3 separate regions of the Homo sapiens genome follow, and regions 2 and 3 are each linked to region 1. The links come from fine-mapping of genetic effects on gene expression. A gene starts in region 1. Each other region holds a variant in brackets. All regions are shown on one strand. Distances are from middle to middle. Region 1 holds the start of DNER (delta/notch like EGF repeat containing). Region 2 overlaps DNER (delta/notch like EGF repeat containing). Region 3 overlaps DNER (delta/notch like EGF repeat containing).

Evidence for each region. PIP is the estimated chance that this variant, and not a neighbour inherited with it, causes the effect.
Region 2: its variant is fine-mapped to the expression of DNER in atrial appendage (GTEx, PIP 0.97).
Region 3: its variant is fine-mapped to the expression of DNER in sun-exposed skin (GTEx, PIP above 0.99). The same link has a PIP of 0.9 or more in aorta, fibroblasts, tibial nerve and unexposed skin.

Annotation. Positions count from the first base shown.
Region 1 is chr2:229,713,136-229,715,892 of GRCh38, reverse strand. DNER (delta/notch like EGF repeat containing) reads left to right here and starts at 1,338. Exons shown (of 13, transcript NM_139072.4): 1 at 1,338-1,745. The coding sequence starts at 1,470. RefSeq lists enhancers at 1-655, 656-1,430 and silencers at 1,268-1,327, 1,398-1,507.
Region 2 is chr2:229,655,168-229,657,924 of GRCh38, reverse strand. All of the region lies in intron 1 of DNER (delta/notch like EGF repeat containing), which reads left to right. Among named protein-coding and RNA genes, the nearest start is that of DNER, 58 kb to the left of the region's middle. The variant A/G (reference allele first, on the strand shown) is at 1,300.
Region 3 is chr2:229,443,752-229,446,508 of GRCh38, reverse strand. The region is part of intron 8 of DNER (delta/notch like EGF repeat containing); the gene reads left to right. Among named protein-coding and RNA genes, the nearest start is that of PID1, 170 kb to the right of the region's middle. The variant C/G (reference allele first, on the strand shown) is at 1,415.

The DNA.
Region 1 (2,757 bases):
TTGCTTCTGCGTTTGAACAGGACAGGGAGAAGCCGTGCAGTTTGCCTTCTGTTTCCACTGGAGGACTTTTAGCAATCCCTGGCGTCTGTGACACCTACAGCAGAAGTTCACATGGAGTCCTTACTTTAATTTTTTTAAAAAACAAAACAAGCTATTTTTGTGTTTACTAAAAAAAAAATTGGCCCAGACTGTCAATCCAGGGGAATCACATTTTCTTTTTTCATTTGGCCACCTTAAAAAGAAGGTAACAGGTACCTGGGAACCCACAGGTAATAGAGATTGTGAAAGGTCAGGTGGAGGAGACAAGGCTGGATGCGCTTTATTCAGCGGAGTGCAGCCTCCTTGGCGGTCGCAGCACCAGCCAGCCCAGCCAGGACGTGTAGAAGAGCCCGCCCCCCCCATCCCCTCCGAAGTAGGTCACAGCGAATGCTCCTTTTATGCAGAGTCCCCTGTTGCGATTCCTGCCGCTAGCAGCGCCTCTGCCAACCTGGGCTTTTGAACTGTTCTTTCGGGCGTTCTGGGCTGGGAGTCAATTGACCCACTGGATTCGAATCCAGACTTTCTGGGCCTCAGTTTCCCCCTAGGTTCAACGACAGGGGTGGACAGCCTTACACCAAGGCCTCTTCCCGGCCTCACACGGCGCGGCCAGACGTTCCTTAGTGGTGCGGCAAGGCCCCGCGCTCTGGAAAGGGCCGGCGAGAATGAGACAGCTGGGTCAGCACCAAGGACAAGGGCCCCGGGTCCGCCTGGCGGAGGCGAGGTCACTTCCAGGCGAACCCGGCTGCTGAGCAAGCGTCGGGCGCAGGGTTCCGTGGCCGGGCGGGAGGGCTTGGGGTGCCGGGAGAAGCGCTGTGGGAAGGGGAGCAGTCCCGGGGGATGAGGCAAGGCCGGGCCCCGCGGCGGTCTCGCAGATTCTGCGCCAAGAGGCCAAAGGTGGCTGCTGCGAGCGCGCCGCCCCTCCCTTGAGGCGCCCTGCCGCCTCCCGCGCCCTGCCCTGCCCGGGCCTTGGGGCGCACTCGGTGCTCCCGGCTCTGGAAGCCCCTCAAAGCCCCGCTTCCCTCACTCGTGGACCTCTCCAGCCCCTTTCCTGCCCCAGCGTCGCCTGGCTCCCTGTACCAGGGCTGCTTCTGGACACACCCGTGACTTCGACCCACTCCTGGGGGATGGGGTCCCGCATCGTCTTCCTGCAACCCCCATCCCAACTCCCTGCGGGGAAAGAGGCCCCACTCCCCGATGCTCCAGAGCCGGGGCCGCCAGGCGCCCCGCCCCCCGCTCGCCCCGCCCCGCCCCGCCCCGCAGGCCCCGCCCGCCGTTGCCCGGGGAACCGCGGATCCCGCAGCTGCAGGAGGCGCCCGGCCCGGCGGAGCAGCCCTAGCCGCCACCGTCGCTCTCGCAGCTCTCGTCGCCACTGCCACCGCCGCCGCCGTCACTGCGTCCTGGCTCCGGCTCCCGCGCCCTCCCGGCCGGCCATGCAGCCCCGCCGCGCCCAGGCGCCCGGTGCGCAGCTGCTGCCCGCGCTGGCCCTGCTGCTGCTGCTGCTCGGAGCGGGGCCCCGAGGCAGCTCCCTGGCCAACCCGGTGCCCGCCGCGCCCCTGTCTGCGCCCGGGCCGTGCGCCGCGCAGCCCTGCCGGAATGGGGGTGTGTGCACCTCGCGCCCTGAGCCGGACCCGCAGCACCCGGCCCCCGCCGGCGAGCCTGGCTACAGCTGCACCTGCCCCGCCGGGATCTCCGGCGCCAACTGCCAGGTGAGTGGAAGCGGCGGGCGCGGTGCGGGGCGCTGGTCCGGGACCAGCAGCCTCTTCCCGCCGGCCCTGCTGCTGCTGCCCGACAATGGGCACGCCTGACACAGGCTTTCCCACTTTGGGAAGAAGATGGATCCAGTCTCTTGGCCCGCGTGGACGCGGACCCCCGGGCCGACCCTGATTCCCTTACCCGCCCTGGTTCCCGGGCGGGGCCAGCCGGGCTCTCGGGGTGTGCCGCTCCGGGGCTCGGCACTTCTCGCGCGGGGCTCTAGACGCTCCGGTTGGCCACTGAGTGGCGCGCCCCTCCAGGCCGGGCCGAGCCAAGAACCACTTGAGCGGTGCCCGCCTTGGCAGCGCGGAGGAGCCGGCTCCGAGCGTCCCCGGCGAGGTGTTCAATGTCCAGGTGGTCCACGCTCCACGTCCGGCTGGACCCTGTGTGTGTAAAGGGTGTGCGGTGTGGGAGGCAGGTGATGGTGGGCCCCGTGCCAGGTGGTGGGGCACTTTCTCCTTCTCTTCCTACGCCCTTGAGGGCTGTGACAAAGCAGCCAGAGGACGAGGAGGGCAGCTGCCTCCCCTCGGCCTGCGACCAGCCCTCTCTAAGCTTAGGAGCAGTGTTGGAACAGTCGGAGGCATTCGAGGGGGCATTGTACGTGGCGCTGGCAGGGCCGCCCTTCCTGCCGGACGCTCCACGGGGCGCACGCTTGGGGCTGGCAGCCGGGGCGTGAGCAGGGCACCGGGAAGCCGCCAGAAAGCGTGGGGGCGGTGCGAGGGATGGGACGATGGGATGTAGCCAGCAGCCGCCCGTGAATTTGGGGTTTTCAGGAGAATTTGGCAGAAAATAATATCTGGGGCTTTTACAAGTCCGTTAAAGCTCTGTGAAACCTATTAACATCAACATTTCCAGTAGGCAATTTGGTAGGACTGTGTGTACGGGTAGAAAATCCCCAAACCTGTATTGCAGGGTAGGGCAAATAATGAAGTTATCTGAAATGATTACATTAAACCACATGAATAT
Region 2 (2,757 bases), 58 kb after region 1:
AATTAATGATCATGAAATTCCCTTGAAATGCAGGTATCCCTGAAATTTAGGAAGTTGCAAGCCTGACTCTATCATCGCACTCCTGAATGGATTTCTCCCTCCAAATTTAGGAGAGCTGCTGGCTGGCCTGGGTATGACTGCTTATCCACCCGGCAGGTATTTTAGCTCTCAGAGATGGAGAAGCTGTTGTGAGAGTCTGGATACAAGAACTAGGTTGAAAGAGGTCATGTTTCCAAAAATAACGAGTTGCTTAGGCCTTACGTATCATCTTCTTGTCACATCGTATGGCACTAAGCAAACATTTGAATGCATGTTGACTATTACTTAGCTAATGAAGATAAAACATCTGGAGGTAGGTATCTTTAGGACCCTAACAACTCTCCTTTTGTTACTTATGTCATGTAGTGTTGAAATTGAAAAATCACGGTCCTAAAATTGTTTTTTGAGGAACTTCCATGTTGCTTATCTGTATCCCTGTGTTCACTGCGGCATTATTTACAGTAGACAAGGTATAGAACCAACCTAAATGCTCATTGACAGGTGAATGGATAAAGAAAATGTGGTATCTATATACATTGGAATATTTTTCAACCACAAAAAAATGAGGAAATCCTCCCCTTTGTGACCACATGGATGAACCTGGAGGACATTATGCTAAATGAAATAAGCCAGAAACAGAAAGACAAATATTGCATTCTCACTTATAGGTAGAGTCTAAAAAAATCAAACTCACAGAAGCAGAAAGCAGAACAGTGGTTCTGAGGGGTGGGGAAAGGTGGAGACGTGGATCAAATTTTCAGTTTTAAGATGAATAAGTTCTGGGATTGAAGGTACAACATGGGGACCACCATTAGTAATACTGTATTGTTTACTTGAAATGTGCTAAGAGGGTAGATCTTGGCATGTTCTCACCACACACACACACACACACACACACACGTGGTAACTGTGATGTGATGGTCTTGTTAATTACCTTGACTTGGTAATCACTTTACAATATATATGTGTATTAAGTCATTATGTCGTATACTTCAAATATATACAATTTTAATTTCTTAAGTATGCCTCAACAAGGCCAGAAAAAAAGAGAAAAATCATTGCCTTCATGTTTTTCAGAAAGTAAATGAATTACATTATAGTTTCATAGCTCCAGGACATCAAAATCTCTCAAAAACACATTTGCTGAAATTAAACTCCTCCTGTGAGAATGAATGAGTAAGTGTCTAGGTGTGAGAGTGGAATGAAGCTGATAATTTTAAGTGTTATAAATAGAAGTGTGGCTATCAAGGCAGTGGAGTT[A/G]TTTTAATTATTGACAAGAAATGTACCGAGAATAACAGGTTCGAGGGGCTAGATGCTGGTTCCCTTGCAGTGAGCTTTTCCCTTCCTCGTCCTCCAATCCCCAGGCTCACATTGTGGTTGGCTGAGCTGGAGCTCAGCCCACGCTTAGTGGTAGGGAATGAATCTCACCATGTGTCTGCCCCTCACCTTGCACTTTTCCAGAGGTGATCCCATTCATTCCCAACAACAGTATGAGGTAGGGACTGTTTTTTGCTGCTCACCTTTTTAGAGATGACCTTGAGGTACAGAGAGGTCAAGAAACATGTCCAAGGCCACACTGTGAGTAATTGTCAGAATCTGGATTCAGCCTAGGTCTCTTCAATCTGAAAGCTTCTGCTTCTGGCCATGTGGATGATACCTGTTTCCCATGAGACTGCAGGTCACATGTGGTAACCACAGGCAAAGGATGGCTTTTCACAATTACTTCATTAATGGCTCAGGTGCCTGTATTAATTTCCTAGGGCTGCAGTAATACATTATCACACGCTGGGTGGCTTAAGACAATGGAAGTGTATTCTCTTACAGTTCTTGAGGCCATAGTCAGGCATCAAGGTGTGGGTGGGGCCAGGCTTCCTCCAGACACTCTAGGGTCTAGAGGAGGATTCTTCTTTGCTGTTTCCAGTTTCTAGTGGTTTCTGGTATTCCTTGGGTTGTGGCAGCTTAACGTGAATGCCTGCCTTCATCTTCATGTGGGTCTTTACACGGCCTTCTTTCCTGTGTTGCTGTGTCTGTTTCCCACCCACCCCTTCTCTTCTCTTCCTTTCCCTTCCTTTCTCTTCTTCCCTTCTTAGGACTTGCCATTGCATTTAGGACCCACCCAATCCAGGATGATTTCCTCTGCAAATCCTTAATTTAGTCACATCTGCAAAGACCCCCTTTTCCCAACAGGGTCACAATGCATGGGTTTTGGGGGTTAGGACATGGACATGACATTTTGTGGGGGTGGTCACCGTTCAGTCTACTCTTAATACATCTCTTAGTTTCTTTTATGTATTCCAAATTCAACCAAGTTCTTTTTAAATGAAGGACCAAAAGCCATTCACTAAATGATCGATTTAGTGAATTTAGACCTTCTGAACTGTCGTATTTGCCTCTGCACTCCTGGATCTTAGGCTTGTGAAAACCTGGTGAAATCTCCTCTCTTTTCCTGAGTCTGATGGTATTTAAATCGCATCCTCTCTCACCCCTAACACTCCAGGAGGTTTTTAAAAGATGCTTTTCTGGTCTTAGTTATCATTTCTTACATTTTGTTTTCTTTTTTTACCAGTCCCTCTTTTGAATTCATTCCTTCTGCTTTCTTTATTTTTTAACTTAAAAATTATTTTTGTTATATATTTGTATATTTTATTTCATTTCTTTTGGTGGTCGTTCTTGATTGCACCTGGCCTAATATGTAAAGATATCATGCAGCTTTGAGGG
Region 3 (2,757 bases), 270 kb after region 1:
GTATCTGGTTTGGCTTGACCCTGGCTTTGCTGGTGCAATGGCCTCTAGCTGGAATGCGTGCTCCCCGTTACCCCACCTCACTGTACAAACTTCTACTTCTGGGGCTGACTCAGTTTCCCTTCCTCTGGGTTCCGACAGTCACCTACAATATCACTTTTGTGGTCTTGGAAACAGAACATTAATTATCCTTGTATGTGTCTCTCTCCTCCTTAGGGCTGGGAGGAACTGTGTTTTATTAATAGCTTTTGTATCAGCAGCAATCACCCTAAGCCACTATTTAGTGAGCACTGATCTTTCTAGATTCTGAGCCGGGTGCTTCACATCTCTGGTCTTTTTAGTGTCACATTTACACCAAGGTTTGAAATGCCTCTAGAGGTTCAGTCATGTGCCTGTGGCTACACACCCAGAATGGGGGCTGAGCCCAGATTCGAATGCCGGTGTCCCTGGTTTTGCTGCTCCAGTGCCTGGCCTGGAACTTCCAAAGGGCATGTCTCATACTCAACGAATAACTCAACAAGTTACTGAGAAATGCAATTTGGCACTTGAATGGTGTTGAAAAGCCTTTTTTCACATAGACTCTTAATTCCCCGATTTTCTAAGCAACTGATATTTTGCCAAGTGCCTCTTTCCTCTCTGCTCTGACATTCAGAGGGAATAGGGCTGTTTAATCTGCTTTGTAACAATGTTAGTAGTTAGGATTCTCCGGAGAAACAGGAGACAGAGAGCGAGGAGAGAGAGAGAGATTTATTTTAAGTAACTGGCTCATGCAATTGTGTGGACTCACAAGTCCAAAATCCGTAGGGAAGCTGGCAGGCTGGAAACTCAGGCGAGGTTTCTGTGTTGTGTCTTGAGCTGAATTATTTCTTCTTTGGGAAACCTCAGTCTTTGTCCTTAAGGTCCTCAGCTGTTTGGATGCAGCCCACGCACATTCTGGAGAGTCATCTGCTTCATTCAAAGTCTGCTGATTTAAACGTTAATCTCATCTAAAACACACCTTCATACCAACATCTAGATTAGTGTTTGAGCGAGTATCTAAGAACCATGGCCTAGCCAAGTTGACACCCGAAATGAACTATCGCAGTAACATTTTTGGATCTCATAAACCTTGAAGTGAAACAGTTTCTCCACTGTGTTTGACATGAGGATATTTTTCTTGGTTGACCTCCATGCTCTCCTTCAGAGCCAGGGTGGAGACAGGAATAGCTGCCCCTCAGAGGGTCCAGTTTTCTTCCATGTGGATTCGGGCTCACATGCTGTGAGCTGCGTGTCCTGTGGGAGGAGGCAGTGTGGCGCTGGCCCTTACCTATTGGGAATGTGGATCACTGAGACAACTTGTGTTTGCAAACTAAACAAGCTGCAATTGTGCTGGAAGAACAGAGGCTTACTCACGTACTGACTCACGAGCACGCTGTTC[C/G]CAGCTCTGCTCTGGATGTCGTAACACATGTGAAAATACCCCTCAGCAGCATTCTGAACAAAAACTTCCTTAATACTTTATTACCTGTCTCCTGAGAGTTCCGTTCTCTCTGTGAAGCCCCACAAAGAAGAATTAAATATTGTAAGACCAGAAAACAACTTTATTTTCTCCTCCCTTTCTCCTCTGACTTCTTTTCTTAATTATATCAAACTTTTTCTTTTTTAAAATTTTTTTGAGATGGAGTTTTGCTCTTGTTGCCCAGGCTTCAACCTCTGCCTCCCGGGTTCAAGCGATTCTCCTGCCTCAGTCTCCCAAGTAGTTGGGATTACAGGCTCCCACCACCACACCCTGCTAATTTTTGTATGTTTACTAGAGACAGGGTTGCACCATGTTGTCCAGGCCGGTCTTGAACTCCTGACCTCAGGTTATCTGCCTGCCTCGGCCTCCCACAGTGCTGGGATTACAGGCCTGAGCCACCATGCCTGACCCAAACTTTTTCTTATAGTTAGTTGATTTCTAAAACTTAAAATTGAAGGGAGTTAGAGATAAATAGTGTTTTTTAATAATACCAAATAGAGTTTTTCAACACGTGTGAGGCAACCAAATAGAAAATATACTGCCTGATGTTTCTCTTTCCACATTGGGAGAGGCAGCCGAGAGTGGTAGAAAGGACCTCTCTAACATCCTCGCTTATTGACTAAAACCATAGGAAATTTACAGGCATCTCTGGGACTCAGTTTTCCCCTCTATCAGAAAAGAGAGGAGAGTTATATGTCAGAGCATGAAATGAGAGGCAGGCAGCCCATTTCCTGGCATGGACTAGTGAAAGCTCTTCTTTCTTTCTGTCCGTGGAGATTCCAGCAGGATTCTCGAGCTATGTGGGGGTGAAATCACTCCTGTTTAATTTCCACTTTCCTTCCGTCTATTCTCTGCTAAAACATTCATGCCCACTTGGAGCGTTTGACTTGATAATTGTCTGTGGTCCAGCAGTAGCCCCTTAATAGCCTTGAAAAGCCTGAAGACGTGTGCATTCTGTTCGTGGAATGAACATGATCCCTTCATTTGTTCAGCAGTCTCAAAGCAGAGCCTTGTAATCGTGACAGGGCCCTCTTGTTGAACCTGGGAGCTGAAACTGCCTTCAGAGGGGATGTTTCTTCAGATTGTTAGGTGACTGTGTAAAATAAAAAAGGCATCTTAACACCAGGCAAGAACTTACATTTTAAGAGGTGAACATGACAAGTCTGTGAATGTGAAATTTCTCGTCTTCATCTTTTGGAGCATGTAATTGCTTCAACACCAGTTTGCATAATGGAAGAATCTCACGAGAATAGGTGAAATTGGGC